Linked DNA regions of Homo sapiens. The protein of the gene in region 1 interacts with the protein of each later gene in a biochemical or structural test. Each region holds a gene or a part of one and is shown on either strand. Other genes may lie near its edges. The genes, in order: EDAR and EDARADD.

What was found.
Region 2: the proteins of EDAR (region 1) and EDARADD form a complex in vitro, tested with the Homo sapiens proteins (one study listed by BioGRID).

What each region holds. Positions count from the first base shown.
Region 1 is NC_000002.12:108,980,472-108,996,860, reverse strand, and holds the start of EDAR (tumor necrosis factor receptor superfamily member EDAR precursor), read left to right. Parts: upstream 1-7,640; 5' UTR 7,641-7,901; intron 7,902-16,389. UniProt on the Homo sapiens protein: Receptor for EDA isoform A1, but not for EDA isoform A2. Mediates the activation of NF-kappa-B and JNK. May promote caspase-independent cell death.
Region 2 is NC_000001.11:236,420,922-236,437,444, forward strand, and holds part of EDARADD (ectodysplasin-A receptor-associated adapter protein), read left to right. Parts: intron 1-6,470; coding exon 6,471-6,529; intron 6,530-16,523. UniProt on the Homo sapiens protein: Adapter protein that interacts with EDAR DEATH domain and couples the receptor to EDA signaling pathway during morphogenesis of ectodermal organs. Mediates the activation of NF-kappa-B.

The DNA.
Region 1 (16,389 bases):
GGCTGGAAGGAGTTTGGGTTTCTGAGTCACTGCTGGCAGGAGAACCATCTGGAAAAGCCACCTAGCCCGCATCAGATGTGACATGAGCAAGAAACGAGCTATGATTGTATTATGCCACCGAGACTTCAGGGTTCCTGTGTTACTGCCACACTGTTGGCCTGTGCAGATGGATGTTGCTGGTAAGATCACTGATTCAAAGGCACAGGACAACAGCACAGCAGGCTTGGGCTCCATGCTCATGGGCAGGGGGGAATGGAAGTAGAAGTTTCCACATACTCTCTCCCAGTCAGTGAATCCCCTAGATCCCGTCTGGGGTATGTATTTCATTGTTGAAGTCCATGGCGCATACCGTTAATGGGCCTGCTTAATGAGGCCAGTGTCCTGGTGGCCACTCACCTATCTGGAGCCTTTCTTATTTACTTTGAGCTGCTCCCAAGGAGTGTGGTTGGACATTACCAGCCACCTTGAAGGCATGAGTAGAGGAGAGCTCTCTAGTGTCCAGCCCAGTTTGGGATTGTGAGAAACTGTGCTGGACTTAAACGTACATCCCTGCACCTGGGGTGTAAAGATCCCTAAACTGTGTGGCTTAGGGTGGAACCAAGACCCAGACTCAGACCTTCCTGGGGTTCAAACCTGGTCAACACCAGAAGCCTGGCACCTATCCCCACTGTTAGGCAGCAGGGAACTCTCACTCTTCACTCCCTCTTCCCAAATCAGAATCTTTCCAGTTAGTCAACACTTCATTTCCTTGGGGAATCATTTTATACTATGAATGATACCCCAGCAGAACTGATATGAAAGCTAAAATTGCCATAAAGCAGACTTTCTTAAACCTTGCTTATCTAGAAAAGAATAAATTGCATATCCCAATTTTTCATAATGAGAAACTGCAAATTAATTAGTCTTTATTAATAAGGCCTGGCTACAGTGGCTGAAAGACATGAGGGTTTATTCTTTCCCATGAATGAGGCAGGTAATTTGGGCCTGGTGGGGCAGCTGCACAAGGGGTTGGAGCTCCTTCCGTCCTACTCTGATGTCTACCCAGCTGTCATGTTCACACTCCAGGTGGCAGCAAAGGGGACGCATGGAAAGGGGCAGAACAGCTTCCTCCCAGATGAGTTGGCAGCCTTTTTGGAAGTCTCTGACACCTGCTGTGGCTCATTGGACAGTTCTGAAGCACGCGGCAACATCTAACTGCAAGGGAAGCTAAGAAATGCAACCATTTAGCCAGGCATATTGCTCTGAGCAGAGCTGGGAGATTCCTGCTGGAGAAGGGAGGCTGGGAAGAGGTGGCAGGCAGCAGCTCTGCCAGCCAGGGTGAATTCCTGTTAAAATGCCTGTTTATTCCCATTTTGGCTTTCTTTTGCTGACCACAGCTTTGGGGATCTTTGGACAATGGGTTCATATCCATAGCAGGTGAAGAGTAAGGGAGAACTAACATGCCCCCTGCAAGAACACATTAGCCCTTGTAAATCAATCGTTCCTCTGCCTTACAGATTACCTGCAAAATGTTGTAATAGGTGTGATTTTTAATTTCATTAATTTGGCCAGGCACACCTGTATTCCCAGCAACTTGGGAAGCCAAGGTGGGAGGATCACTTGAGCATAGGAGTTTGAGGCTGCAGTGAGCCGCAGTCTCACTACTTCACTCCAGCACAGGTGATGGAGCAAGACCCTGTCTCTAGAAAAAAATCCATTGATTAATAAATACTAATAAATAAAACCCAATGCGGCCGGGCACGGTGGCTCATGCCTGTAATCCCAGCACTTTGGGAGACCGAGGCGGGTGGATCACGAGGTCAGGAGATCGAGACCATCCTGGCTAACATGGTGAAACCTCATCTCTACTAAAAATACAAAAAAATTAGCCAGGCGTGGTGGCGGGCGCCTGTAGTCCCTGCTACTCGGGAGGCTGAGGCAGGAGAATGGCGTGAACCCGGGAGGTGGAGCTTGCAGTGAGCCGAGATTGCACCACTGCACTCCGGCCTGGGCGACAGAGCGAGACTCTGTCTCAAAAAAAAAAAAAAAAAGATATATATATATATATATATATATATATATATATAACCCAATGCACAGATAATTTTTTATGTTTATACTATGGACCCATACTTCCCTGCTTTTAGATATCCACTGGTTAATAGCATGATAATCCCATGACCCCATAATCCCCTTTCCCCGGAGCCATGATTTATGATAGAAATATGTACTTGCCTATTGGAAGGATGAATTTGTTGATTTTCAAATGAAGATATCAATATTTCATATTTCTAAACTCAGTTTTCTCCCCTCTTAATTTTTCTGGTATAGTGCAAATAGGTTTTATAATACTCTTGTGGTTTCCTTTATTAGAAAAACATAGTGATGTGTACTGTTGAGCTAAATGACAATATTACAGATCGTAAAAAAGATTTAGTATTTGAACCTTTGCACTATTCAAGCTCGTAAAGCCATTCTCAGCGAGGATCAATTTCAATTATGTTTTCACTGCTTACATAATGGAGGTGGTGGGGGCCGTCTCAAACCCTGGCTGGGGAGCAGAGAGAGCTTAGGCCACGGGAGAGGGCATGCCTTTGCCCTGCACGAAGCTCCTGGCCTGAAGCTTTCCTTCATCCATGGAGGTGGTTCATTATGGTCCTTCCTTTATGTGACCAGAGTCATTATTGACAGCTGTGTTCCAAATCCAGCTTGCATTTTTAATAAGGTGTCCATGGGGGGAATCCTGGGCAAATGGGAAGTGCTGTGGTCTGGGTGTCTGTGTCTCCCCTGAAATTCATATATTGAAATCCTAAGCTCCTAGGTGATGGTATTTGGAGGTGGGGTCTTTGGGAGGTGATTAGGTCATGGAGGCTAGAGATGGAGCCTCATGAATGGGATTAGTGCCCTTGTAAATGACACCCCAGACAGCGGCCTCACCCCATCTGCCATGGGAGATGACCAGACACTGGGTCTGCTGGGCACCTTGATCTCGGACTTCCCAGCCTCCAGAACTGGGAGAAACAAATGTCTGTTGTTGAGGCCTCCCAGCCTACAATATTTTTGTTATAGCAGCCCAAGCTAAGGCAGGTAGCCAAAGGAAAGCCAGGCTTTTGTTTAATCAGTAGCAGGGGGTCAGTGTTCAAAGTTTAGTTAAATAACTAAATGCAGAATCTCATTCTCCAATAGGGTACAATCAACGCAAAGCCCAGCTCTTTCCTCTGCCTTTGACCTGGAGCTGTCCCATCTGAATTTATGCTGGGGGAGGACAGATCACCCAAGCTTGACAATGGTTCACATAGCATTTCATCTCCCGGTATCTAGGTGACACCCTAAAGGCCCTCCCTCTGTGCAAATACTCCCCCAGACTTAGTCTCTCCCTTTCCTCATTTTGCTAAGGATAGTGGCCCATTTTACTTCTAAAACAAGTTTCCATCATTTTCAAATCATGATATACTTGGAATAGAATCCATACCCTTTTGTCCAGCCCCCACGTGGAATGTGGTCTCTACCACCCTTCCTGGGCTGGGCTCAGCTGCCTCCCAGGCCAGCTCCCTGCTTTGTGGCCACAGTTTCCTGTCAGTTTCCTCAGCACACCTGGCTCTGGGCCCCACAGGACCTTTGTACAAGACCTTTGGTCCATCTGAAACACCTTCTGCCCAACTCTGCAGGACTGCCTTCTTCCTTCGCAAGTCTTGGTCAACTTTCCTTCTCAACAACCAAAGCACCGCCCCTCACACCCCCTTACCCCCACATCAGCTTGCTGGTGTCCGCCGTATCACCCAATTCCATTCTCATATTTTAGGCACATTTGCAAGCCTAGGAAGGTGTGGTTCCTAAGAGAGACTTTAAATCACAAATATTTATATTCCTGTTTTTTCTGCCTATGGAACTGTGACCACATGAGTAGCGGGTGCTCTGAGATGATACTTTAAAAACTAGCTGGCCAGTGCTGAGGAGGGCAGAGCCCTGTGAGGTTACCACTGACAGAGCTGGGGACAAACGCATTTTAGGAAAGCAAAGAAGCCAGGCCAGGTCAGTCCTGGGAGCCACTGTGCCACGAGGCAGGGGCAACGTTCTTCCAGAAAACAGTCCCAGTTGTGGGACAAATTTGAAGCTGCAAACTCTACACTATAGACAGAACTGTGATCATTTTATTCTGAATAACTTAGTGGGTGTCACCATGAGCATAAAAACATTTCATCAAATATACACACACTGTGTTAGGATTTGAGCAATGTCATTTCCTGGAAGGTTTTCTGAGATAGACTTCACCTGCAGGTAACCAGAAGTTTACTTGCTGTGGTGAGTTGTTAGGTGAAACCAATTATATGTCAGGGCCCAGCTGCCAGACAGGAGCATCTTGCTTTTGGAGTGTTTGATTCCCCTGCCACTTTTTGAGACAGTAATTAGTAGCAGGAAACTGTCACCAGCCAACTGATAATCCCCTCACATACAAACACAAATAATCCAGGCATCCTGTGCACCCTTGCTTATCACGGCCAAGAAGTACTTTTCATCTCCATTTCATAACTTGATTACTCTATGCCTCCCCAAACAGAGCATAAGCTTCTTGAGGCCAGCGATTTTGACTGTTGTTCTCATTGTGATCTACCCAGCAACTGGAACAGTACCGGCACGTAGAAGACGTGACGTGCATTTGCTGCATGAATAAACACATGAACATGATGGCATAGGAGAATGCTACTTTGATGGGGTACATGGGTATCAAGGATTTTCTTTCTGCTCACACAACATGAGATTTGTAATTAAGACACAGATTTAAGGTGAGTCCGGTGGCTCACACCTGTAGTCCCAGCACTTTGGGAGGCTGAGGCAGGAGGATCACTTGAAGTCAGGAGTTCGAGACCAGCCTGGCCAACATGGTGAAACTCTGTCTCTACTAAAAATACAAAAATTAGATGGGAGCAGTGGCACATGTCTGTAATCCCAGCTCCTCGGGAGGCTGAGAATCGCTTAAACCTGGGAGGCAGAGGTTCCAGTGGGCCAAGATCACGCTACTGCACTCCAGTCTGGGCGAGAGAGCAAGACTCTGTCTCACCAAAAAAATAAAAGACACAAATTTAAAATCACGATGACCAGAATATGGCTCTGTTTCACTCACTGGAAATTATCTGATCTGCAAGATAATTCTTACCAACCCCTGAGTGTTTTTTACAGGGATGGGAGTCCATTGACTCTCTAAAATCACTTGCGAAGTTTTGTTGCTGCGGAGCTGAGAGCTGGGGCCAGCCTGCCTGTTGTGCCCCTCCATAAGACTCCTGGCCATGCATTTGAGCACACCTCATGAAGGGGGCAGGTGGCTGGCCGGGCTGTTATGTGTAGCAAGCATGTGTTCTAAATTACAATTCATTTGTTCTAAATTACATTCATCATTTCTAAATTTGTTCTAAATTTAGAACACAGCCCCAGGAGACCCCCTTCACCCAACCATGTTCTGCAGTCTTGATTCATTTTCTTACTTAAAAAATGCTATTGATAACCTGTTGCTATTTCTGCCTCAGTCTCTTAGGAAATGTATAAAACAGAAAATCACATATCTTCAAAGCTCTGGAGCTTTACATGATGAAGATAAGCAATGATTTCTCATTTCATTCTTTCTCTTAATCAACTGAATTAATTATATACTCATTTTCATTTGGATATGATGACTAGGCAGACTTCAAGTATAACCATCCATAACCTTGCTTAATGCCATGATGTTTGGATTTTTTTCAAAGAGAGGAAAAAACTCCCTTGGCTTCTATTACAGCATCCATATTTTGTGCCATTTTAATTTTTTCTTGTGTCTTTTTTCTCTCTCTTTGGGAAATATCAGTATCATTCCTTTTGGTAAATTTTAAATCACCACTTAATTTCCAATAGAAAAAATGTTTTAGTTACACCTAAAATAATCCCAAACCTCAAACACACTGTGAGCACACCAGAAAGTAAAAATTATATGGAGTAGAACAGATTAGCCCAGAATACCTCCCATTCATTTTCCCAGGTTCCTAATTTAATAATTTCAGTGACTTTAATTTATCACAGACCCTCAGTCTGAACTCGGCATGAGCAGGGTAGACAACCAAACCTGAAAATTCAAGTTAAAATTCTTGTTTGGGAGCTTATATTATCTAGATTAATCATCCACAAGGATCAAGTCAGCTAAGTAACTCTGGTTCAGCTTAATCTCTGTGGAGGCAGAATTAGTCCTTTACAGTCTAGGTCCTTGCCCCAGCCCCATACATTTCTGTCTGCTTTTTTCTTTTCTTTTCTTTTCTGTTTTGAGACAGATTCTCGCTCTGTTGCCCAGGCTGGAGTGCAGTGGCACAATCTCGGCTCACTGCAACTTCCATCTCCTGGGTTCGAACAATTCTCCTGCTTTAGCCTCCACACATGCCACCACCGGCTAATTTTTGTATATTTTTTTTTTTTTTTTTTTTTGAGACGGAGTCTCGCTCTGTCACCCAGGCCGGACTGCGGACTGCAGTGGCGCAATCTCGGCTCACTGCAAGCTCCGCTTCCCGGGTTCACGCCATTCTCCTGCCTCAGCCTCCCGAGTAGCTGGGACTACAGGCGCCCGCCACCACGCCCGGCTAATTTTTTGTATTTTTAGTAGAGACGGGGTTTCACCTTGTTAGCCAGGATGGTCTCGATCTCCTGACCTCATGATCCACCCGCCTCGGCCTCCCAAAGTGCTGGGATTACAGGCGTGAGCCACCGCGCCCGGCCTAATTTTTGTATTTTTAGTAGGGACGGAGTTTCACCATGTTGGCCAGGCTGATCCCAAACTCCTGACCTCAAGTGATCTGCCCGCCTCAGCCTCCAAAGTGCTGGGGTTACAGGTGTGAGCCACGGAGCCCAGACTGTTTCTTTCTTAAGCTCTTACTTTCTCATGTGTGAGTTACCTTGTAGGTTTCCAAGGCAGAGGGGACAAGATGGAAAAGGAGAACACAGAAATCTAGCCTGGAGGAGCTGCTCTGTTCCTGTATTTATCTGTGTAGGTGTGAATGAGGGAGAAAATGACAAGAGAATGACATTATTTTAAGGCTGTTTTCCCCCCCCCAATCATTTACTTTTTGAGAAATAATTGCCCAATACTGAAAGGTATGTCCTTTCAAAATGTTGATGTTTCAAATGGCTTCCTAATTACCTAGTTATACGGGGGGTGTGTATGGTTATCTGAAGTTACATGGGTATACACTGGTGGTGTGAGGTGTCCAGAGAGAGGAAAGGAAGAGCAGTCCTGGTGGCTCAAACCCTGAGGGATGTGCGGGGGATGGGTGAGAATGTGAACAGACATGTTGGAAGCTGAATCCGTGCAGTGGCACCCATGCCTGTAGCCATCTCAGTGGGGGGTCCTTCTACGAACAAGCTTTGATTAATGATATTTTAATGCTAGTTTAGCTTTTTAGCACTCCCACGCCTAAAGGCTCTGATAGAAGCAAGGCCCCCACCCCTGCAAAAAAAAAAATCCATGATTTTTACGCATTCCAACAGATCTCTTAAGGGGCAGACGGCCGGAGAGCCAGGTGTGCCAGGGACCTATGGCAGCAGGGCTGAACGTGCCCGCTCCAGCCTCTCCAGTGCTGGGAGAGACCTCTAGATGGTGCAGGTGAGTTTGCAATGAGGGAAAGCCCCTCGGCAAGGACTGAGTTTCCAAACTTGCAGACAGGGCAGGGAGCGGTCAAGGAAGAGTTCCCGGGAAGCCCTTTAAACGGAAAGGAAGCGGGGCTAGTGTCAGAGAGGTGTGCCAGGTCCCAGGCAGCCCTGCTGGCCCCTAAGGACATAGAGTACCTGCTTCTGAGAGGGCTGCCACGGTGGCCACCTGTGAAGCCTGTCACCCAGAACTGGATGGTACCTGACTTTCTTCATAGACCCATCTTCTGCTGGGACTGAAGCTGACCTCCAACAGAAGCCAGGTAAGCCCTGGTCCTTTCCTCTGGTTTTCTAAACTCTTCAGCTGTGGCCGAGACGGAGGTGTCATGGGCTGGGAGAGAGGCTGGGTGCATTTTTGAAATGCATGTCATTTTTGGGTTGCGTTTGAACAAGCTTTACCGATTGCAGTATGTCTGCGCTACCAGTTCTAAGACCTGAGATTGTTCCTTTGTTTTAGAAAAACATCAGAAACCCTGTTTTGCTGTTGGTTGCACATTTGGTTAGGGAGACAAATTCTGTGTGTGCTTCACAGGCTTTAAGATTTGGGCTACTGAAGCAACGGGTTCCTCCAGGGAGCGTGAAAAGTATGTTTCTCAGGTTTGCCCCTGTGCCCGGCTCACTGGGGAAGGCAGGCGCGGCAGGGACTCTAGCTGGGCTCTGTACCTGCCTCCAACTCTGCGTACCCGCTGTGACCTAAGAGACCTTCCAAGTGGGGTTTCCAGTCGTGTCTGAGACCCCCCATATCCTGGCCTCTGTGTTGGTGGCGGGGGAGCGGGGAGAGGGAGAGAAGGAGGGGAGTGGGTACCTATTTGTGATGATTGAGGTTTTCATTTCCAGCCAAGAGGTTCCTCTCAACACTCTGACAGACCGTGGGGTGGGTTGGGCTCCTAGACAGGAGTCGGCTCTGATTCAGTCGGCTCTGATTCCCAGCCTCCTGCAGCAGCCAAGCTTTGAGATGTCAGCTCAGGGAGAAGCGGGTGGCTGGGCAGGGAGGTCAGCAGGCGAGGTTCCCACTGGGTTTCCCTGCCCATGTTGTGCTGGGTCAGCAACAAGAGGGACAGTTAAAATCAACAAGCAGGGCAGATGCCGGTCAGTGGGCAATCCCACACAGCCAGGGGTACACGCATGTGAGGAGACGTACGGAGAGACAGGAGCACCACCGTCCTCTTCCCCAGTCCCCAGGCCACTGCTCTGTGGCTCTCAAGTGGCATTTTTGAGACACTTTCTAAGCAAGAGTGAAAGTGTAACAAAGAAGTGAAGAGCCATAATAGACTGAAGGAAAAAAGGGATCCAGGCATCTAAAATAGAGAATGTTTCTTGCCTGGCTTAATACTCTGAGATTTGTAAGTCATAGCCACTTAAAACCTTTAAAGATACATTTTGACAGAGGCCACCAAAAAGAGAGTGACTCTGGTCAAGGCTTGGAAATAAGCGTTCGTTCCGATGACAGTCCACGTGTACCCTTCACGGCTGGGAAAGTTTGGCGATCCTGGTGGCGATTGGCCGGGGGTCTCCACTGTACCCCTCCCCATCCCTAAGTGGGCCAGGCTGTGCTGTGGGAGGATTAATTTGTGACAGCACAGTTGGAGGATAATCTTGGAAGGACCAGTCTTTGGGAGGAAAAAGTAAATACACTTTCCCTGAAATGCTTGATTTTCACTCCCTGGCCACTACCTGGTTTCTTGCTTTTGTGAGCTGGACTTTCATTTTGTTGGGCATACACATTTGTGAAGCACAGACATGTCAGGGGCTCATCTTTGTTTCTCAGGCATCATGGTACCCTCTTGCCTAGCCCAGTGCCTGCCATTGGGCGGCAGCCCAACATTGCTCCGGAGTGCAGACAGACCTGGTCTTACCCCATCTCACGGAGCGCAAAACCTACTTGCCTCTGTTAAATGGGGAGCCTCTTCTAGTCAAAGTTCCTCAGGTCTCATAGGCCCACAGATGGAAGCTGGGTTACCTGACGCTCCTTTCTGGGTCCAAGTGAGTGCGTTTTGTGGTTTCCAAAGAATAGAATTTATTCTCAAGGAAATGCCCAGGAACCCAGCTTCAAAGACTCAAGCAAATCTGAAATTCAAATACAGGAGCTGTAAACAGGATGGTGTTTGGCAGACAGCCTTGCTGCTTAAGTGGCTCAGCCCCTCAGCTGGGCTCAGTTTCCCCTCACCCTCCTCCTAGCCTGCCTAGTGACTGCCTGCATGCCTCAATTATCCTGGATGACACCTGCCTGCTCGTTCCTTTGATGCTGTTTGAGGCTCTGCCTAGGTATTCCACCCACCAATAGTATCATTAATTAACTTACATTAAGCCCACTTAGCACATTAGATCAATTAGGGGACAAAAGCCCCAGCCAGCCTTTCCTGTGAGTATGCCGCCTCCATCTCAATGCCTACGATTCTGTCCTTACTGAATTCGTATATTGCAGGAAGGAATTTTTTTTAAGTCCCAAAGATTACTATTTTCCTAAAAAATAAAGCAAGGAAACATAAGCTGATGTCTAATCATTTAACCTCTGCTGTACATTTCTATGGCACTTTACAAAGCGTTGTCATGAATGTCTTCTCTATTTTCCCAATAAGGAAATTGAGGCTCAGAGAGGTTCACTGTCTTGCCCGAAGTCCCACAGCTCATAATGATTATGGGAACACCAAGAACTGGTCTAGGTTAGCACTCAGTATGCCCAGGCCTCGTGTGGAGCCTGTCACTCATAATTGGAGGGGCTGAGACTAGAACCTGTGTCCTCTGCCTCCAACACTGACACATTTGCCCCCACAAGGAGATGGTGCAATGACAGCCACCAGGGATTATAAAAATAAGAGTGGAGTAAGCAAACACTCCCCCTCCTGTATCTTAGTTTCCCAGGGTCGTGTCAGCCCCAGACACACTCATCTCCTGTCCTCAGAGGCGAGGGATCAAGAGGAAACAGTCTCAGTTTTGTTCTTTGTGAACCCTCCTGATAAAAGTTAGAGTGTTTGTAGTTTTTATATAGTGAAAAAAACTGTCAAATATAGGCCATTGTAGGTGGTTCAGTCTAAGATAGTCTAGTAACTAAAAAAAAACTCAAAATGGCATTTGGGGCTCAGGCATCCCAACAGCCCACTGGCCCCTGAGACAAATGAGCTTGACCATATTTAATTTTTCATCATTGCCCTTAGAGTGTCACAAAGCATTACCCAAGGATAGCTGACCCTGTACAGTCAAAGCTATGAAAAAAGCTTTGCCCTGGGTCTTGGCAGGGATCAGCCATTCATTAGGTCATGTATTAAGGGATCCTACAACCTGAAGTGTCTTCAGTCATAGCACACCCCAAGGACATCATGCACTCCATGAAAATATGTCCAATGAATGAATGAATGAATGGGCTCCTTCATCCTTCTTGTCAGAGAAAGGTCACCAATTGTTCCAATGACACAGTTAGGGACAAGGGGGCTGCTCAAACATCAGCATCCCCTAAGTCAATAAGCAAACAAATCCTAGTTAGCAAAGCTACCCTCTCTGGGGGCAGAGACACCTGTTATTTCTCAAATGCTGGATGCCCAAGGGTGGCAAACACACTGTTTGGACCCCAGGAAGGAGCAGACACATGTGGGTGAAGCTGGAGGTCCTGCTTCCTTGCCCAGATCCTCTTGCCCAGACACACTCTGGAAATGCCCATCATTTTATACACCTACGTACACATGTAACCAGCCAGGATGCCTTTGTTTTCCATTTCCGAGAAAACAGAGGACTATGGAAAACAGGTGGGCCGTAAGGAGCCCTACAGAGGAAGATGCACCTGTGGCGGTAGCCCTGCCTGCACCACCCTGCGAGCTCATGCCAGCTTAACTCACTTCACGGTCAATCAGACCTACTGCTCCAAACACAGTAGGAAGGCGCGCCTTCACTTGTGAGTCGGACGAAATCAGCAATGAGGGCAATAACAACCACAGTCACGTTACTCTTAGTAACAGCCCTGAGGCCCGCAGTGTAGCACAGAAGCCAAGCTTAGTGGTGGGCTTAAGGCTGATGTTGTTAACTGATACCATTCAATAGCTAGATATAGGCAACTAAAAGGTGAGCCCAAATACTGAAATAAGATACAGTATTAGTCTCCTGAAAATAAAAAAGAGTTGATTCTGCCAACAACACCTTAATCCTGAGAGAAAGCACTTTCTTAGGATAGAAGAAAGACATGCAAAACCAGACTGCAAGCAAAAAATGAGAGGGCATGCACTGTTTTGACGACTCTCAGATGGTTACCAAATCTCTTCTCTTAAAACTTCCATTTGCCATATTTCCAATCCCATGTTTGCACAGAATCCTGCATGCACAGGAGGAAGCAGGCAGGATTTCAAGTTGGTTTTAGTGCACATTCATTCATTCAGCAAATGTTTTCTGGGCATCTGCTACATGCCAGGCACCATGCTGGGATGTAGTGAGTAACACAGTGGTCCCATGGGTGAGGAGAGAGAACATCCCTGCACTCACAGAGCTTAGATTCTGCTGCAGGGAGAGAAGCTATAATGCATAAATCCAGCGCCATGAAAAAAAAACAAACAAACTAGCAGGGCAGGTAGAAAGAAGGTGCCCAGGGTAGTAGTGGGGGCCTCTTGGGAAATGAAATAGTTGAGTAAAGACCTGGATGAAGTGAGGGAGTGAACCAGGACACCCGCAAGAAAGGAGGCCCTGGGGTGGGGTGAGCTGGAGATGTCCCAGCACCAGCAGGAAGGCCATGCTGCCGGAGCAGAGGGAAAGGAGGGTTGAACAGAAGGAGAGGAGAGGAGAACCAGGAGCCTGAGCGGGCCGTGGCAAGGGGGCTGGGCTCTCATTGAGGGTGATGGAAAGGCAAACAGAAGTCAAGTCAGGGCGGAAGTTCAGCCATGGTGGCTCACGCCCTGTGTTGTTCTGGGACAGTCAGTGCCCACACCACCCCATCCCATGCCACGCCGGTTGCTGTAATTTGCTTCTAAGGAGCTGGGTCTCCAAGTAGCCTCTTCCTGGGAGAGTTGGCTTGGCTGAGGTGCAGGGCAGGAAGGGCAGGCAGCAGGAAGGGTGGCAGGAGAGGAATGATCCATTTTCACCAACACCTGCTCCCTTGGCCGTTAACACATGCCAAAGGGATCCATTCTGAGAAAAATTATGAAGACCCTAACCTGAAACACATGATTACACTTCCAAAAATCTGAAAGTAGATTATCAAGACTCAATAAGTTGTGCAGAGAAAGAACACTTAGCAACAGACATCGCCGTCGCCCCCCTTGCAGCCCTGCTGGGACACTCCCACAGTCGCAGAGCCACTGGCCAGCTGCACTCGCTTCCTCCTCACTTGGAGAGAGGGACACCTTCCAGCATCGGGTGTGAGATGGAGTGGGGACGCAGTGGCTCTCTGATGGCTCAGTTGGCAAAATTGTTGGAGAACGGGTTCAGAGATCACTGATGCCCTTGGCCAGCATGCCAGACCTGTTCCTGTTGACTCCATATGGCCTTTGGAGTTGGAGAGAAGGTGGCTTCCCTGCCCCGTCCCGCACGGAGCCACCAGCACCTGGAAAGTTTGATTTCCTTCCTCGTATCTGGAAGATGCAGGTCGATTAGGAGGGAAGTCAGTCTGGAGGAGGATACCTGTCTCTGGGAACTCCAGGGCAGTCAAGGCAGACAGATGGATCACGAGGGAGGAGCTGGAAGGGCGGGATTGTTGACTTGATGTCTGGTTGGGGTCTGATGAATACAGGAAAGTGGAAGGCCACGGGGAATGCTCCAGTGGGATGCAGATGTCTATTAAGTTGGCTGATTTTATTTACCCAGTTAGATGTGGTTTTATGGTTTACTGTTTGGATTGAGGCTCTGTGTCCTTGGGTAATAAACATTACCTCTGGCCCCAAAAAATCCTAATCCTTAAAAATATGGAAATGCACTGAGCATCCCTAAAAGGTACTTTAGAGGAGTCTCAAGGTTCATTTTCTTTAAGATTTAGTCCTTAATAAAGACTCAAAATGGCTGTTCCTAAAGCCTCCTGTCCATAATGAAGAAGATAAATCAGAGTGTACACTTTGGGGATGTGTTTGTTGACATGCGGCATCCTCTGCAGAAAGCCTGTATCTCCAAGAAGCGTGGCCAAGGGAGGGCACTGACAGCTGAGTTTAGAGTGGGATTTGTAAGCAGCACAAACTAATTGTGCATCGGTAGATTTGCAGAGTGTGGTTTTCTGTTGATGGATTTCTTTATGGGCAATAAAATCTCCAATAAGTACCATTTACATTCAGCAGAACTCTTTTTGAATTTTAGCTCATTCTTAGAGAGATTTGGAGAGAGAGAGACCATCCCTGCACATGCAGCAGGCACCTGGCCTGTCTGGGTGGCCAGTCCTTGTTCTGTGGCCACTGTGAACCCCGCCAATGTCCTAGTTTCCCGCCAGCACTCACTAAGCAATTTTGCTTCTCATTTTACGGGCAGACGTAACCAAAGCAAGGAGACTTAGGTGACTCGGGACACTCGGTTTTGAGTCAATTCTAAAAACCAGGAGACCAAACTTTCTCTAGAATTACTGCCAGTTGGTTTCCAAATTGAGGTTTCCAGATGAAAATTATTATCCAAACAGACCACACACAGCACTCTGACTTGCCTTCTGTGCCTGGCATGTGCGAGGGAAATGGCGCTGGAGAATATTATCCTGATGATTATCACAGTTGTTGCTTTTGAAGGCAAATATTTATTTTGTGAAGATTGCAAAATGAAGTACAACAGAATGTTGAGCTCCTCCTTATGTTTACAGAATAAACAGAACTGAGACACTGGCAAACGCCAATGTCCCTAGTTCTTAAAGGACTGGCTGCATGCCTCCCACGGCATCAGTTAAAGCAGGAGCCTCTGGAGATGGAGGCCTTTGGTGGCAGGACAGCCTCCCACCAGGGAGGGTCTGAGGCTTCCACCCACCTCCCTGGGTTCATCTCTGTAAACAGCTCTCCCAGTGTGGGCTGGATGGGGTTTGAGGTGGCTGCTTTCCTGTTTACCCTGGAACATTTCTTTGTTAGAGAGGCCACTGCATTTGCTGTAAGACAACGGGCTCTAGATCTTTCTCAAGGCTTTGGGAGATCTAATAGAAATAAAAGACCTGGCCCCTATTCTCATGGCCTAAAGCATTGAAAGGAGGAAATAGGAGAGATAGCCAAATTGCATGGTGCTGTTACTGAGCCGTTAAACATCTGTCCCTGCCGTTGCACTGACTGTGCCCTCTTTGAGGACGGGAAGCATCCGTCTGTTCATTCTCTGGCACCTAGCACAGTGGCTGCACACAGTAGGTATTCAATAAATGTTGAAGAAACCCACATTTATTGGGCATTTGTTGCTTCCTTAGCGTTTCCGTCTTAATCTGCACAGCAGTCCTGTGAAATAGAGACAATCATCACTGCTTCACACATGTGCAGAGTAAGGCTTGGAGAGGTGAGGTGGCTTGCCTGAGACCTCCCTCCTGGTAAGTTCATGGACTTCGCCTTGCTGTCGTTTCCATGGGCTCGTTCAGAAATGAGAGCTGGGATGATGTGGGCTGTTTCAAATTAGCTTGAAGTCTAACCTTGTATCATAACTATCTCGGGTGTGGGGATAGTATATATCGAGCAGAGGTCTAGGTATAGACAGATGTGTGAAATGCTAAACATGGCTGAACTCCCCAGAGACACCTCAGCAGACAGCCCTGCTGGCTAGCCCCGGATCCTGGACAGGTGTTGTTTGGGCTGCAGGATGCTGGGAGCTAGAGCGGAAAATGGAAGCTTCTCTTTGTATCCCCAAGGCCAAGAGCAGACCTGGCCAGCCATTCTTCTCACAATAGCAGTCATACCAGACCTAAGACGCGCCAGACAACTTCAACCTCAGGAGCCTTTCTTCTTCCCTGAAGTTGGGGTGGACTGGTCCTGGTGGGGTTGGACTGGCATGGGCTAGCCACCTGGGGCGGGTGCGGCTCTGGAAAGAATGCTGGCGGCAGGGTGGGGAGGAGCCCAGCCTCAGGTGGACACAGGCCCAGAGCCAGCCCCTTCCCGTGCTGGTGGTGGAACGTCAGATCATCATTGCTGGGTAACTTCTGTCACTTCAGTTCCCCGAGGGAAGGTCACATACTTGCCTCATGGGAATATTATGTGGATTTCCGAGAGCCAAGGCAGGCAGAGTGCTTAGAGCGGGCCGTGAGCACATTGGAAGTCCTGCTCATGCTCTGTATGCACTCACGGGCTGAGTTTAACGGGTCAGCTCAACCTCTGCCTGGCAGTCATTCCCACGGTCTAGTCCGTCAGAGGTCCCTGTCTTTCCTTGGAGCAGTCTATCAATTTGGCCAGGTTTCAAAACACCATGAGGACCCTGCAGTTAAGGGGCAGCTACACGGGGGTTGGTGTGGGGACACAGCAGGCTCTGCCAGCCCCCATGGAGTATGGTGCCAGGTTGGCCACCTCCCCACCAGTGACACCGTGACCCCACTCTGGCCACACTGATTCAAGCTCAGGGCTGCCGCATTTGTTCCCTCTGCCCAAAACGCGCTGGCCCAAGATGTCTGTGTGTCTTGCTCATTCCCTTCAGGTCTATGCTAACACGTCGTCTTATCAGAGAAACCCTCCCTGGCCCCACACTGTATAAAACAGCAGCTCCCACCCCTGGACTCCTGTTTTACCTTTATCCATAACAGTGTCCACTCAACGACTTATACATATGCATGTAATATCACATAAATATATATATGTAAATATATACATACACACATAATATCACATAAGTATTATATATATGTGAATA
Region 2 (16,523 bases), on another chromosome or scaffold:
TGTGGTTTCACCATGTTGGCCAGGCTGGTCTCGAAGTCCTGACCTCAGGTGATCCACCTGTCTCGGCCTCCCAAAGTGCTGGGATTACAGGTGTGAGCCACTGTGCCCTGCCAGGAGAATGTGTTTTGATTGTCTCCTCTTCACCCTGTTGGTGAGGGAGGGATTCCATCTTAGGGTTACAGGGATGGCCAAACACATGACACTCAACACTTAACAGATGAGATCGACAGGAATTTATGAGTCATGTATACTCAGTCCAGGAGGGGAGGACACTGTGCGTCATGCAGGGCCACATGGAGGTTGCACTTAGGAGCAGAGCAAACAACAAGGGGCTGTCAGACAGGCTTTATGGTATTAAGCAAGTGGGGTGCCTCCTGGTTGTCAGGATGTGATTGGCTTGTTTGAGTTAAGTCCATGGAATCAGGGGAAATGAAGCCCATTACAAAAAGAGAACAAGGACTGTGCGTGGTCCCCTTGGTAAGGGGCGTTGTTTGGCTAGGGGACTTTGGCCATGGGAGCAGAGTGGGAAGGAGACTTGTGGTTAGGCCATTCAAGACCTTCCCAGTTCTTTTTTTTTTTTTTTTTTTTTTTTTTGAGACAGAGTCTCACTCTGTCGCCCAGGCTGGGGTGCAGTGGCTCAATCTCGGCTCACTGCAACCTCTGCCTCCCAAGTTCAAGCCATTCTCCTGCCGCAGCCTCCTGTGTAGCTGGGATTACAGATGCCCGCCACCACGCCTGGCTAAGTTTTGTATTTTTAGTAAAGATGGGGTTTCACCATGTTAACCTAACCTCTAACTGGTCTCTAACTCCTGACCTCAGGTGATCTACCCGCATTGGCCTCCCAAAGTGCTGGGATTACAGGTGTGAGCCCTTCCCAGTTCTACCAATGTCAAGGCAGCACATAAATTGAGTCTCAATGTTAGGTCTTATACAACAGTTCACCCCTAGATGCCATGGCATAAATTTAAACCTTAATGATGGCTGAGACTTCTAGGGAATAGAAGTGCCCCACTAAGAAGCAAGGAAGGCACTTGACCAGGAGGGAGAGGGCCACATGGTGAGATGGTCATCAAAAACAGGAACTTTAGAGGTGTCCCCCTGATGGCCAGTAAAGGCAGTTGAGGAACCCGTGTGGCATTGGTGTAGGGAGTACATGTCTCCAGAGGTTGTGGATTTAGATTCATTAAGGCCTGTGACAATAGTGACACCCAGTAACTTACATAGGAGTTTCTTGAAGATTTCATTATGCCTCTCAATCGAACCTGCTGCCTGATATGAGAGGGGAGGTGGAAGTTTCATTGAATGGCTTAAGAGCCTGGCGTTGTATGTTCTTAGAAGAGAAATGAGTGTCTTGCTCACTGTCAGTAATAAGTGGGACTCCAAAGGAGACTGGAAATGTTCTGCTGAAGCCTTGTATGGTGGCCTTGCTGTACATAGAGACATCTGTTTCTTTATTTATAGTTTGGGTGTATTTGAGGCAAGAGATTCTGAGAGTTCTTTACCACAAAGGGTGCAACTCTTAGGCAATGGTCCAAAAATTTATAAAAACTGTGCAGATGGGGCGATTTGTTGGCCAGGACATCCAGCAATAAGATGACTGCCTGAAGTTTGGCCAGTTTTGCTAATCTTGGGTCCTTCCTTTATCAGGGATATCCTGGTTAAGGGATGGAAAGCAGCAACTGTCTGCTGAGCTTCATCGTGTATGATGGGGGTGATGTCATCTGTAAAGTCTACAAATTCCCATTGCTCTTCACTCAGTTGCTTTGAAGGGGCTCCCCAGATAACCTAGGAGTCTGCAAGAGGGGTGACTTTTTCCAGCACTATGGGCTCTGGTGAGGGATGGGGGAAGCCACCCCTTCCTGCAGATGGAACATGCCAGAGTGCCCGGGTTTAGCTCCATCCTGTATCAAGGAGGCCTTGGTAACCATGCGGAGCTTCCAGGATTTTGCTTCCATGACCCAAGGCATAATGGACAGCGCAGTATGGAGGGTCACAGCTAGTGTTTAATGACAGCCTCTATTTCCAAGAGAGCCCAGTATGCAGCTAGCAGTTGCTGCTCTAATAATGTGTAGAACAGGGCCTGGGAGGGCAGTTTCTTGCATCAAAAGCCTGTGGACAACTTTCAGCTATCGTGGGTGGTCCAGAGACTTCAGGAGGAATGAGAGGAGGTTGCTGAAGCTCCAGAAATCTCTGGGGGTCCTAGTGGGACTGCCTGTTGTAGACTTTTATTGGAGGGGCCCAAATTTACATTGAGCTGACTTGCAAGTACTGGCATCAATGAGATTAAATTTGTAAATGAGAAATATGTTGCCACCAGAACCCAAAAAAGAGCTAAAAATATACTAGACTTGTATTCACATTGTGGGTGCAGAGAGGGTCAATAGCTATTTATTGACAGTGTCTGGGTGGGAGCAGCCCTTAGTTTACCAAGTAATTTTTAGGAATTTCACCAAGGTGGCAGGGCCTTGCGCTATGTGTGGGGCAGTGGCCCATCTCTTTCCGTGAGCATTGTTGTGAGTACTGTATTCCGTGGCCTGCATGAAAATGTCAAGTGAGAATGTCCTCAGAGGAGGATCTCATCCATGTAATGTCATCACACTCATGAGACTGAGAAAGTAGGATGCAGTTAGATCTTGCCTGCAAAGCCTGTGTGTGATGACCAGGCTCTTGAAATGCCCCATGGGTGCCTTGTAAAGATATATCATGTCCGTTTGCAGATGAAGGCAAACTTTGATTGAGAGACTATTGAGATAGTCACTGAACAGAACATATTAGGCAAATCTGTAATAGCAAAATATTTTCTAGTCACTAATTGGATGGAGTCAGTGTTTTCCAATCATTTTAGGCATGGGGTATGGAAGCCTTAAGGGATGAGACCACAGCAGTAAAAGTGTAGTAATCTGGCTAGATGCGGTGGCTCACACCTGTAATCCCAGCACTTTGCGAGGCCGAGGTGGGCAGATCACTTGAGGTCAGGAGCTCAAAACCAGCTGGGACAACATGGTGAAACCCTGTCTCTACTAAAAATACAAAAATTAGCCGGGCGTGGTGGTCGGCACCTGTAATCCTAGCTTCTTGGGAGTCTAGGGTAGGAGAATCACTCAAACCTGGGAAATGGAGGTTGCAGTGAGCTGAGATCGCACCACTGCACTCCAGCCTGGGTGACAGAACAAGACTCCGTCTCAAAAAATAAATAAATAAAATAAAATTGTAGTAATCCACTGTGAAGCATCTTTTTTTTTTTTTTTTTTTTTTTTGGAACAGGACGTTGCTCTGTCACTCAGGGCTGGGGTGCGGTGGTGTGATCATGGGTCACTGCAGCCTTGACCTCTGGGAGCCAAGTGATCCTCCCACCTCAGCCTCCCAAATAGCTGGGACGATAGGCATGTGACACCATGCCCAGCTAATTTTTAAACTTTTTGTAGAGATAGGGTCTTACTGTGTTGCCTGGGCTGATTTTGAACTCTGGGCCCTCAAGCAACCCTCCCATCTTGGCCTCCCAAAGTGCTGGGATTACAGGTGTGAGCCACCACACCCAACCTGTCTTCTCCTTTGTGTCCAGGTTTCTTTTTATCTTTCTTTCATTCCCTTTTTATGGTCACTGGATATACTTTTGGCAGGGGCAGTCTTCTCTACTCTGCTCATATTGATAAATTTCTTCCCCCAGAGAACCTCAAATCAGTATCATCAGGGGTGGGGCCTTCCCTGTGGCAGTGGTTGCTCTCATATAGTTTAAAAACTGTGGGCTTGTGTCAGGGTGAATTAACCCTTTTACTGTGCCCCGGGGCTACTAGGAGTTTTCCCTACAACTCTGAGGATCAGGATCTTTGCTGCAACAGGGGCATAAGCTGCAGCGTGGTCCAGCCCAATGGAAGAGTGCTGGCCTATAACCCAGAGGTGGAGGGACTCTGCTACAACTTTGTCTTTTCTGCCATGAGGGTTTTCCTTAATTAATTAACTAATTTGTTTATGGATTTTTTCCTGTCTTGTACAAATGCCCTCAGAATATTTTGGATTTCTAGCCACATAAAGTTGTGGCTTTCAGTTTTTGTCTCCATATGTCCCAAGGGACCTTCTGGGAGGTTACGAGCAAAGTGTTGGGAGCCAGGTGGCCCCCGTCGCAGGCAGCCACCTCTTCCTCCAGGGAATACCAGTCGGTCTCCCTGGGGATGGGGTCCTCATCCAGCCAGGTGGTTTTGTCTGTGGCCCAAGTGGGGACATTAAACCCACTATGGCAAGATGAGCTCTTTGGCGTGTTGGAAGCAGCAGCGCTAAGCACAGCTGGGTGCGCTCGCCAGGGGCTCTGTGCCGAGAGAGCAGTTGAGTACCAAATGCTTTTTCCCGTTTTCTTTCTTCATTAGCACCTGGGCCACAGACTGCCATGGCTGTGTACCTCGATGCCCCTGGGGGTCAGGAGAACACATGGGCAGCAGCAAGGGAAGCAGCAGCTGAGGGGATGGGCAGGGTCACTGCCTTTGCCTTAGCAGCAACCAGGGCACCAGGGAAACTCCCCTGGGGAACTCCCTGGTCTCTCTCCTTCCTTTCTGCAAACCTCTGTCTGCAAAGGACCGCCCCCGTGGCTGACCTGGGGATGCACTTCACAAACAGTGCCTGTACAGCTGCCCCAAGTGGCCAGTGATGGTCACCAAGCTAGTTGTATTGCTAAGAGAGCTTGCACCTGTCCCTTGATAAGTGGGACTTAAGCAGCAACCGGTTAGGGGGATGTGCTACCACCGTCTTTACAGATGGGAGCCTCAAGAGACCACCTGCCAAACACAGGCCCAAACTGACAGCTCTGGGGTCCAGTCAGTTCACAACAGTTTTCATCTTGGGATGAGATACCAAACAATCAACAAAGACAACACAGCATTGCATAGGCCAGAGTGCAAATCTTCCAGTAATTGTCAATTCTATCCCAGGCAGCCTGCGTGGTATTAGTGAAGTTGGTTAGCCGAGAGCAGTTAATGAAATCTGACCAAATGTCCTTGATTGTGGTTGGGTCATCCTGTTCATTATGCCAGTTGTTTCTTTTCTTTTATTTTTCTTATCTTTTTTTTTTATTTTTTTATTTTTGGAGACAGGGTCTCACTCTGTCCCCCAGGCTGGAGTGCAGTGGCATGATCGATCAGAGCTCACTGCAGCCTTGAACTCCTGGGCTCAAGTGATCCTCCTCTCTCAGCCTCCCAAGTAGCTGGGACTACAGGCACACACCAGCATGCCTGGCTAATTTTTAAGTTTTTTGAGACTGGGTCTCACTGGGTTGCCCAGGCTGCTCTTAAACTCCTGCCTCAAGTGCTCCTCCTGCCTCAGCCTCCTGAATAGCTGTCATTACAGGCGTGAGCCACCACTCCTGGCTATCATGCCAGTTGTTTTGATCACCTTCTCCTCACCCCTGCTCTAGGATTATGGGGATGGACAAACACACACATCCAACACTGGAGAGACAAGATCAGCAGCAGTTTATGAGTCACATATATGCACAGCCCAGGGGAGGAGGACACTGCCCATCACACAGAGCCACGCAGGGGGACACAGATGTTGTACTTGAGAGCAGAGCAAAAAACCATGGGCTGTGTGAGACAAACATTGTGGCATCAAAAGGGTAGGCTGCCTTCTGGTTCCCATGTGAGTTCGTGATCAGCCTGTTTGAATAATTCCACATGTTGGTAGGAAACTGAAACCCACTACCCAAAAAATAAGCAGGGGGCAGTCACAGTGGCTCACACTAGTAATCCCAACACTTTGGGAGGCCAAGGCAGGAGAATCACTTGAGGCCAGGAGTTCAAAACCAGCATGGACAACACAGTGAGGCCCTATATCTTACTTAGCTTGGTGTGGTGGCACATGCCTATCTTCCCAGATACTTGGGAGGCTGAGGTGGGAGGATCACATGAGCCTAGGAGTTCCAAGTTACTGTGAGATGCACTCCAGCCTGGATGACAGAGTGAGACCCTCTGTCTCTTATTTTTATTTTTTTGAGACGGAGTTTTGCTCTTGTTCTCCAGGCTGGAGTGCAATGGCGTGGTCTCAGCTCACTGCAAACTTTGTCTCCTGAGTTCAAGTGATTCTCCTGCCTCAGCCTCCAGAGTAGCTAGGATTACAGGCATGCGCTACCACTCTTGGCTAATTTTGTATTTTTAGTAGAGACGGGGGTTTCTCCATGTTGGTCAGGCTGGTCCCAAGCTCCCAACCTCAGGTGATCCGCCTGCCCCTGTCTCTTATTTTAAAAAAATAAATAAAAAATAAGCAGGAATTGTGCCTAATCTCTTGATAAGCAGCATTGTTTAGCTGGGGGATCTTATCCTTAAGAGCAGAGTTTGGAGAGGAATTTGTAGTCCAGCCCTTCTGATTTTACCAGATGCCAAGGCAGCATGTGACACTGAACCTTAATTTTAGGTCTTACACCACGGAGTGTGTGCTTTTTAAAATCACACTTTGTTTCTTTCTTTCTTTCTTTTTTTTTTTCCTAGCTGAAGAATGTGATACAATTACTTTGAACTGCCCACGAAATTCAGATATGAAAAATCAGGTAAGAATAATTTCAACTATATTTTACCCTTAGGTACATGATAATCCACCTAAAATTTTTTGAGATTTATAGAGTTTTACAAATAAAAAATGAAAAACAGGATTTCTAGATCATAAACAGGGTTTGCAAATGGTCTCTAAGCATCCCAGTAAGGTAGCATATCTTTAGAACTTTTTTACTTCTAATAAATATTATAGCTTTCATTCATTCTTTGAAATACTCTTCTACATGCCAACAACAGAAAATCAATGCTGGTGAGTTAGAAAGGAGAGTTGTTTTCTTTCTAATGCAGTTGGCACTCTGTGGATGAGCAAATTCTTTAAGGCACAACAAAACTAGATACTCTAATATAATACTTGTAATGCTTTATTAAACTTTAATTTTTTTAGATATCAGAAGTCAAACTTTAACATATTATTTCTATTATCTTTTTCCAAAAAGGAAATATGTTTATTGTTTTATGATTATAAAAGAATTCATATTTTTTAATTGTAATTTTTTTAATTTATTTATTTTATTTTATTTTATTTTTTTAGTATTTATTGATCATTCTTGGGTGTTTCACAGAGAGGGGGATTTGGCAGGGTCATAGGACAATAGTGGAGGGAAGGTCAGCAGATAAACAAGTGAACAAAGGTCTCTGGTTTTCCTAGGCAGAGGGCCCTGCCGCCTTCTGCAGTGTTTGTGTCCCTGGGTACTTGAGATTAGGGAGTGGTGATGACTCTTAAGGAGCATGCTGCCTTCAAGCATCTGTTTAACAAAGCACATCTTGCACCGCCCTTAATCCAATTAACCCTGAGTGGACACAGCACATGTTTCAGAGAGCACAGGGTTGGGGGCAAAGTTATAGATTAACAGCATCCCAAGGCAGAAGAATTTTTCTTAGTACAGAACAAAATGGAGTCTCCTATGTCTACTTCTTTCCACACAGACGCAGTAACAATCCGATCTCTCTTTCTTTTCCCCACACTTCACCCCTTTCTATTCGACAAAACCGCCATCGTCATCATGGCCTGTTCTCAATGAGCTGTTGGGTACACCGCCCAGACGGGGTGGCGGCCGGGCAGAGGGGCTCCTCACTTCTCAGATGGGGCGGCCAGTCAGAGACACTCCTCACTTCCCAGACTGGGCTGCCGGGCAGAGGCGCTCCCCACATCCCAGACATGGGCGGCCGGGCGGAGACGCTCCTCACTTCCTAGACGGGATGGCGGCCGGGAAGAGGCGCTCCTCACTTCCCAGACTGGGCTGCCGGGCAGAGACGCTCCTCACTTCCCAGACGGGGTGGCGGCCGGGCAGAGGCTGCAATCTCGGCACTTTGGGAGGCCAAGGCAGGCGGCTGGGAGGTGGAGGTTGTAGCGAGCGGAGATCACGCCACTGCACTCCAGCCTGGGCAACATTGAGCACTGAGTGAGCGAGACTCTGTCTGCAATCCCGGCGCCTCGGGAGGCCGAGGCTGGCAGATCACTCGCGGTCAGGAGCTGGAGACACGCCCGGCCAACAGGGCGAAACCCCGTCTCCACCAAAAAAATACGAAAACCAGTCAGGCGTTGCGACGCGCGCCTGCAATCCCAGGCACTCGGCAGGCTGAGGCAGGAGAATCAGGCAGGGAGGTTGCAGTGAGTCGAGATGGCATCGGTACAGTCCAGCCTCGGCTGGGCATCAGAGGGAGACCGTGCAAAGGGGAGAGGCGGCAGTACAGTCCAGCCTCGGCTCGGCATCAGAGGGAGACTGTGCAGAGGGAGAGGGAGCGGGAGCGGGAGAGGGAGAGATTTTTTTTTTTTTTTTTTTGAGGCAGTCTCACTCTGGAGTGCAGTGGTGCGATCTCGGCTCACTGTAACCTCTGCCTCCTGGGTTCAAGAGATTCTCATGCCTCAGCCTCCTGAGTAGCTGAGATCACAGGTGCGCGCCACCATGCCCGGCTACTTTATTTATTTATTTATTTTTTTAGACAGAGTCTCGCTCTGTCACCCAGGCTGGAGTGCAGTGGTGCGATCTCGGCTCACTGCAAGCTCCACCTCCCAGGTTCACGCCATTCTCCTGCCTCAGTCTCCCGAGTAGCTGGGACTACAGGCGCCCGCCACCATGACCCGCTAATTTTTTTTTTTTGAATTTTTAGTAGAGACGGGGTTTTGCCATGTTGGCCAGGCTAGTCTCGAACTCTTGGCCTCAAGTGATCTGTCCACCTAGGCCTCCCAAAGTGCTGGTATTACAGGCTTGAGCCACTGCACCTGGCCAGAATGTTCATTATTTTAAAGTTCAAGTTGTGCAAAAAAGTACACACAGAAAGTTAAGAATTGCCTGTCATTCCACTGTTCCACCTTTTGATATACATCTTTCTGGGGACTTCCTTGGTCAGTTACTTCTTGTACTGTCCAAGCCACCTCTGTTCTCTCTCCCAAAGCTCATTAGCAGAGTTGCTTAACTATATTTACAGCATTCAGTATCTCAAAGGCATGTTTTGCCTCAAATAGGCTGATTCAATTCTGCTCCTTCTATATATAACATCAAGTTAATTTGTAACAAGTTTTGCCTAGTCTTGCTTTAAAACATCACTCTGTAATAAAGTCTTTAATAGTAACATTGCTGGGTAGTCAAATCACCTCTGTAAGAAAGAGAAGTTACACAATAGTTGATAAAATAAGCAGTTTAAATTAAAACACATAACTGTCTTGAAAATGGTCAGTGGTGCTAGTTTTAACTTTGTTTTGGGGAATTTTCAACCATTAATTGTGAATATCAGACTTCACTCTTTACTCCTGATACTCAACATTTTCCTTGAAATTATAATCTAATAATGGGCTTCTGTGCTTACTGAATTTAAACTAGTTTAGTAAACTGAAAGTATAAATTTGTTCTTCTCATAATCCTAATTTTTAAACAAAATTTTGCTCCTCACATTTTTTTGGTAACATGTAGACTTCCTTGAAGATAAAAGAATGCTAAGTTTTTCATGTAGTTTACTTTTAGGGATTTTCCAAAACCACTTAAGATGAGGTACAGAATATATGTTAGCACACTGTTCAGCATTTTTCCTAATTTCAGTGTTATAATTTTGGCTATATCAAGTAAATACTATCCTAAAAGGTGAAAATATATTTATCAACTAAAAAAATAGGGGAAATACCTCTTTGAGATTTTTAAAGTTCTATTTTAAAACAAAATGTCTTCTTCTCCTATAAAAAGTAGTACTATAGGCAGCTGGCTGCTTCCGTTGACTATTTCTTTGTATAATCTATAGGATTTGTTTTAACTGCTAGATACTCAGAAGGATTCTTTGAAATGAACTTGGCAGTTAGAACAAAGAAAATTCACCAGGGAGAAACGTTTAAAAGAAGAAAACAACACACACTCCATTCTATAGTTCAGACATTAAAAGCAAGCTGGAGGCCGAGCTCGGTGGCTCACGCCTATAATCCCAACACTTTGTGGGGCTGAGGCAGGTGGATCACGAGGTCAGGAGTTTAAGACCAGCCTGGCCAAGATGGTGAAACCCCGTCTCTACTAAAACTACAATAATTAGCAGGGTGCAGTGGCAGGCGCCTGTAATCCCAACTACTTGGGAGGCTGAGGCAGGAGAATTGCTTGAACCAGCAGGTGGAGGTTGCAGTGAGCTGAGATTGTGCCACTGCACTCCAGCCTAGGTGACAGAGTGAGACCCTGTCTTAAAATAAATAAATAAATAAATAAAATAAAAGCAAGCTGGAAGTATGTTCTTTAGAATAATTATTATCTGCCTTTTTAGTGATTTTTATAATTTAAGACTAAAATCTGCTTCTACTAAGGATTTATTTGAGCTTCCTTTTTCGAGTGATGCCGAGGAAAAACATCATAGTGTCCTAGTGTCAAAAATTAAAGTCTAAGCCAGGCATGCTTGTGGTCCCAGCTACTCAGGAGGCTGAGGTGGGAGGATCGCTTGAGAACTGGAGTTTGAGGCTAGTCTGGCAACATAGCAAGACCTGTCTCTTAAACAAAACAAAACATTAAGGTCTGACATTTCAAGTGCAATTTCAGAAAGAACCCTTTACTTTTAGTTATTTAAAATCAATACCCCATCTACTAGAACTATTCAACTTCTACAACTTATTACAACTGGTATTTATTGAGGATATACTCTAAGACCAATCTGAACTGGGTATTCTTGGACATAAAAAATACAGGAGGAGGAGGTGGAAGTTAAGACCCCAGGCAGGGCCGGGCGCGGTGGCTCACGCCTGTAATCCCAGCACTTTGGGAGGCCGAGGCGGGTGGATCATGAGGTCAGGAGATCGAGACCATCCTGGCTAACAAGGTGAAACCCCGTCTCTACTAAAAATACAAAAAATTAGCCGGGCGCGGTGGCGGGCGCCTGTAGTCCCAGCTACTCGGGAGGCTGAGGCAGGAGAATGGCGTGAACCCGGGAAGCGGAGCTTGCAGTGAGCCGAGATTGCGCCACTGCAGTCCGCAGTCCGACCTGGGCGACAGAGCGAGACTCCGTCTCAAAAAAAAAAAAAAAAAAAAAAAAAGACCCCAGGCAGACCTTATAGACTTGTTGGAGAGGCAGTGCACACAGTTTGATTCTCGGATGTGTGTAAGGCTCAGATGTGTAAACAATTTCCATGATACTTTAAGGAAAACATTTCCTAGGACCTTTATCAATCAATAAAGTTTTAATTACTTTAACGACATGCATAAGCATATGGCAAATGAAGATAAAGCAAAAATTTGTTCCAGCTGGGTACGGAGGCTCACACCTGTAATCCCAGCACTTTGGGAGGCCAAGGTCAGCAAAACCTGAACTCTACAAAAAATACAAAAATTAACCACACCTGTGGTCCCATGGTCCCAGCTGCTCAGGAGGCTGAGGTGAGAGGATCGCTTAAACCTGGGAAGCAGAGGTTGCAGGGAATGGAAATCGTGCCACTGCACTTCAGCCTGGGAGATAGAGCCAGACCCTGCCACCAAAAGAAAAAAAAAAAAATTGGGTTCCAGTTTGTAGCCAAGAATCCATGCCAAGAGGAGTCTAAGGTAATACAATAAAAATAAGAAAAATAATAAATATTAGGATACTAAGTTGGAGTTAGAAGTTATGAAAATAATGACATTGTCTTCTATGTTGTTTATTTGGATTACAAAACAAGTTTTTTTAGTTTTAGAAACTACATTAAGAAACTGCAGACCAACTCGGTGGCTCATGCCTGTAATCCCAGCACTTTGGGAGGCCGAAGTGGGCAGATCACCTGAGATCAGGAATTCTAGACCAGCCTGGCCAACACAGTGAAACCCCGTCCCTACTAAAAATACAAAAATTAGCTGGGCATGGTGGTGGGTGCCTGTAATCCCAGCTATCTGGGAGGCTAAGGCAGGAGAATTGCTTGAACTCAGGAGAGGAAGGTTCCAGTGAGCCGAGATCATGCTCAGCTTGAGCCTGGGAGGCTGTGGCTGCAGTGAGCTGTGACTGTGCTGCTGCACTCCAGCATGGATGACAGAGCAAGACTCTCAAAAAAAAAAAAAGAAAGAAAGAAAGAAAGAAACTACAATACCATTAAGTTATTGGCTCATTTACTTGCGACAAATGTATCCCACTAATGTAAGATGTTCATAATAACAGAAACTGGGGATAGGATATATATATAGGAATTCTTTACACTGTCTTCTCAAATTTTCTGTAAATCTAAAATGATTCTAAAATAAAAGCGTTACTTTAAAAAGCATACTAAATAAAATTTAGATTCTAGATCAATGAAAGGCGCATCGCCCATTCCACCACTCGAATACAATTATTTTTGTCACTTCGTTGTATTCCTTTGTACATTTTTGTATGCATAATTATAAAAACAGCAAATAACCCTGGGCGCGGTGGCTCATGCCTGTAATCCCAGCACTTTGGGGGGGGCCGAGGCAGGTGGACCACCTGAGGTTAGGAGTTTGAGATCAGCCTGGCCAACATGGGGAAACAGAAACCCTGTCTCTACTAAAAATACAAGCGATTCTCCCGCCTCAGCCCCAGAGCAGCTGGGATCACAGGCACCCACCACCACACCCAGATAATTTTTGTACTTTTAGTAGAGACGGGGTTTCACCATGTTGGCCAGGCTGGTCTCGAACTCCTGACCTCAGGTGATCCACCCACCTCAGTCTCCCAAAGTGTTGGGATTACAGGCGTGAGTCACCGCATCCAGCCTAACTCATATAGTTTTCAAAATGACCTTATGCAGGACGTACCATTATTATGCTCACTTTACACATCAAGATCCAGAGTGGTTAAAAAATAAAATAAAATAAATATAAAAATTAGCCAGGCGTGGTGGTGGGTGCCTGTTATCCCAGCTACTCTGGAGGCTGAGGCAGGATAATTGCTTGAACCCAGGAGGCAGAGGTTGTGGTAAGCCGATATCGCACCACTGCACTCCAGCCTAGGCGACAGAGTGAGACTCCATCTCAAAAATCAAAAACAAACAAACAAAAAAAACAAAAAAAAAAACCCTGCAAATAATTTGATATTGTTCTATATCCTGCTTTTGTTGTTTAATAATTCAGAAACATTTTATCCAGTTTGCTCCATGATTTTGCCATCCTGTTGCTCCATGGTCATGATGATGTCATGGTCAATGGCAGCACGGTATGCCCATCTGACACAGAAATAGATTCTAGGATGCGAGTCTGAGGGCCGGAGCCAGAACCCTCCCAGTAGATGGAATGATATAGCCCAAGCTTGTCCAACCCATGGCCTGCAGGCCTTATGTGGCCCAGGACAGCTTAGAACACAGCCCAACACAAATCTGTAAATGTTCTTAAAACATTATGAATTTTTTTGCTTTTTTTTTTTGAGATGGAATCTTGCTCTGTCTCCCAGGCTGGAGTGCGGTGGTGTGATCTCAGCTCACTGCAACCTCTGCCACCTGGGTTCAAGCAATTTTCCTGGCTCGGCCTCCCTGGTAGCTGGGATTATAGGTGCACGCCACCACACCCAGCTAAACTTTTTGGATTTTTAGTAGAGACGGGGTTTTGCCATGTTGGCCAGGCTGATCTTGAACTCCTGACCTCAAGCGATCCACCCGCCTCAGCCTCCCAAAGTGTTAGGATTATAGGCGTGAGCCACTGTGCCTGGCCTTTTTGTGATTTTTTTAAAGCTCTTCAGCTATCATCAGCATTAGTATATTTTACGTGTGGCCCAAGACAATTCTTCTTCTTCCAATGTGGCCCAGGGAAGCCCAAATATTGGACACCCCTGGTATAGACAGAGGATCTGAGGGGAGATTCTGTGACAGAGTGAACTTGGCCTGAGAGAGCTTAGGTGATGAGGCTGGAAGGTAAGTTGAGACCAGGGCCCCAGAGCCTTGAATGCCGGAGAGGGGTGGGTGGTGGAAGGTATTGGGGATTTTCAGTGATTTTCTCATGACCTTATCTGGGATCCTAAGGGGACTTGAAAGAAGATGAGACAGGCTTAAAAGCCTGTGCCTGGGAGATGGATGCTATTGACAAGATCAATAGAGAATTCAGGAAGAAGACCATCAGATGTGTGTGTGTTGTTAGGATTGAGTTTTCTTTGTTGGTTGGTTCAGAAAGAGGAGATAAAGGTGTGTGGAGTTTGGGGTATGTGAGATTTGTTGTGCCAGTGAGACTGCTTGTGTAGATGACACAGCACTAGGTACTGTGCTTAGGATTCATGCATTGGGAGGTTATAGTTGAAGCCCTAGGCATGGATGAGACTGTCAAGGAAAATCGTCCTTATAGGAAAGCGGAGAGGTTAACCAAGATGAAACCTTGAGGAACACTTACTCTTGGAGGTCAGAGGAAGAAAGGAGCTCAGAGGTAACTAGAGGAATAGCCAGAGAAGAAAACCATCTGTGCTCAAGGCAACGATTCTTTCCTTCATAGCACTGATCCTAGTTCATAGTCACATGTTTGCTGACTATTTCATTGTCTTCACCCATTGATTAGGCTATGCCCCTTGAGGGCAGGGACTCCTGTGTCTTTTTGCTCATAATTGTATCTTCAATGCCTACTACATAGTAGGTCCCAATAACTGTGTATTGAATAAAGAAAGGGAAAAGCCAGGGGAGGGCATCGCTTCACATGTCGAGGAAGGAATGGTCACCACCCTCAGGAGGCACAGCGTGGTCAAGAGGGAGACCTACCAAGATGTCATTGGATTTACTTGCAAGAGTTAAGAAGTGAGTATGAGAATGTTTATGCAGTTCTATCCAGAAATTCATTAAGGTAGCAAAGAAAAATATTAAAATGTTATTTGAAGATATTGGAAAGTACAGAAAAGGCTTCCTTTCTACTTTTCAGGATGAGAAACTTCAGGATTTTAGAAAGAAAAAGGATCAGCAGGAGTGGAGGATTAAAAATAATAGAGAGAAGGGGGATAATACGTGGGATGTTTTCCTATAGAAGGTAGAGGGGATTCATTTTCTTAGCAAATATTTATTGATAACATATGTTTGGTAGAAAACACACAGCACTAGATTTTCCTCAAGGAATCTGTAAGCTGGCAAGGAAGTCAAGATATATGCACACATAATTTTGATAAATAAGAGTCGTCAAAGGCATAGAGAGATGAATTTGCATTTTAAAAGTAAAAACCTCAGCCAGGCATGGTGACTCAGGCCTGTAATCCCAGCACTTTGGGAGGCCGAGGCAGGAGAATTGCTTGAGACCAGGAGTTCAAGACCAGCCTGGGCAATAAAGTGAGACCCCATCTCTATTAAAAAAAAAAATGTCTTTCTTTCCTTTTTTTTTTTAGATGGAGTCTCACTCTGTCGCCCAGGCTGGAGTGCAGTGGTGTGATCTCAGCTCACTGCAACTTCCACCTCCTGGGTTCAAGCGATTTACCTGCCTCAGCCCCCGAGTAGCTCGAACTACAGGCGTGCACCACTGCACCCGGCTAATTTTTGCATTTTTAGTAGAGACCACCATAGGTCTCACCATATCGGCCAGACTGGTCTCTAACTCCTGGCCTCAGGTGATCTGCCCTCCTCGGCCTCCCAAAGTGCTGAGATTACAGGCGTGAGCCACTGCACCCAGCCAAAACTTTCTTTTTAATTAGCTAGGTGTGGTGGTGCACACTTGTAGTCCCAGCTGCTTGGGAGGCTGAGGCAGGAGAATCACTTGAGCCTGGGAGGTTGAGGCTGCAGTGAGCCGTGATTGTGCTACTGCACTCCAGCATGGGTGACAGAGCAAGATCTTGTCAAAAAAAAAAAAAAAAAAAAGTAAGAACCTTAACTCTTTTTTAGAGGCAGGACTCAAAGAAGGTTGGATGGGGAAAGATAGAAATATACTTTTTAGATGCAAAGTCAAGAAGTTGAGTTAGTTGATGTGAAACTGGTGTTGTGCCTTGAATCACGGCATTTGGTTGGGACAGTTGGTTGGGACAGGAGGGAGGAAATGGAGCAGAGTTATTAGGGGGCTAAAGAGTTTGCTCTGTTCATACAGCAGGGAGGCAGAGACCTGCGTGAAATAGGCAATGCTATGACAGTATTTGATAAATGTGAAATAGATTGCCAGATGGTAGATGGTGAAACATCCATTCATCCCTCCATCTTTCAAGTATTTCAGTGCCAAGAATGTATTACCAGCACTCCCTTAGGGTCTCCAGATACAATGGTGAATACCTAGAGCTTACAGTCAAGTTTGGCATTGAAAATCTCCAACTGGGAAGGGTGAGTGGAAGTGTTTGTGGATGCTCCAATCACAGAAGCTCCGTAGGCAAGTACACTAAGAAAATCCCCCTCTTAGAGAAGCTCAGCACATATCCCTAAAGGCAAAAGATAGAGAGGACACCTGATCGACAGGTAAGCTTAGTTGAACAGAGAAATACTTGTTTTTCCCACCCCTGGGGCATACCTGTTAAATGTCCCCTGCATCTCATGTTTCCTGTAAACACTACTTTGGGAAGAGTTGTTCAAATGGAAGTCTTGAATGCCAGGATGGAAGAGTGTGAACTTGATGTCCCACACCCTGGAAAGTTCCCGAAAGAGTCTGACGGTGGAATGATGGGGTAAAAAGGCAG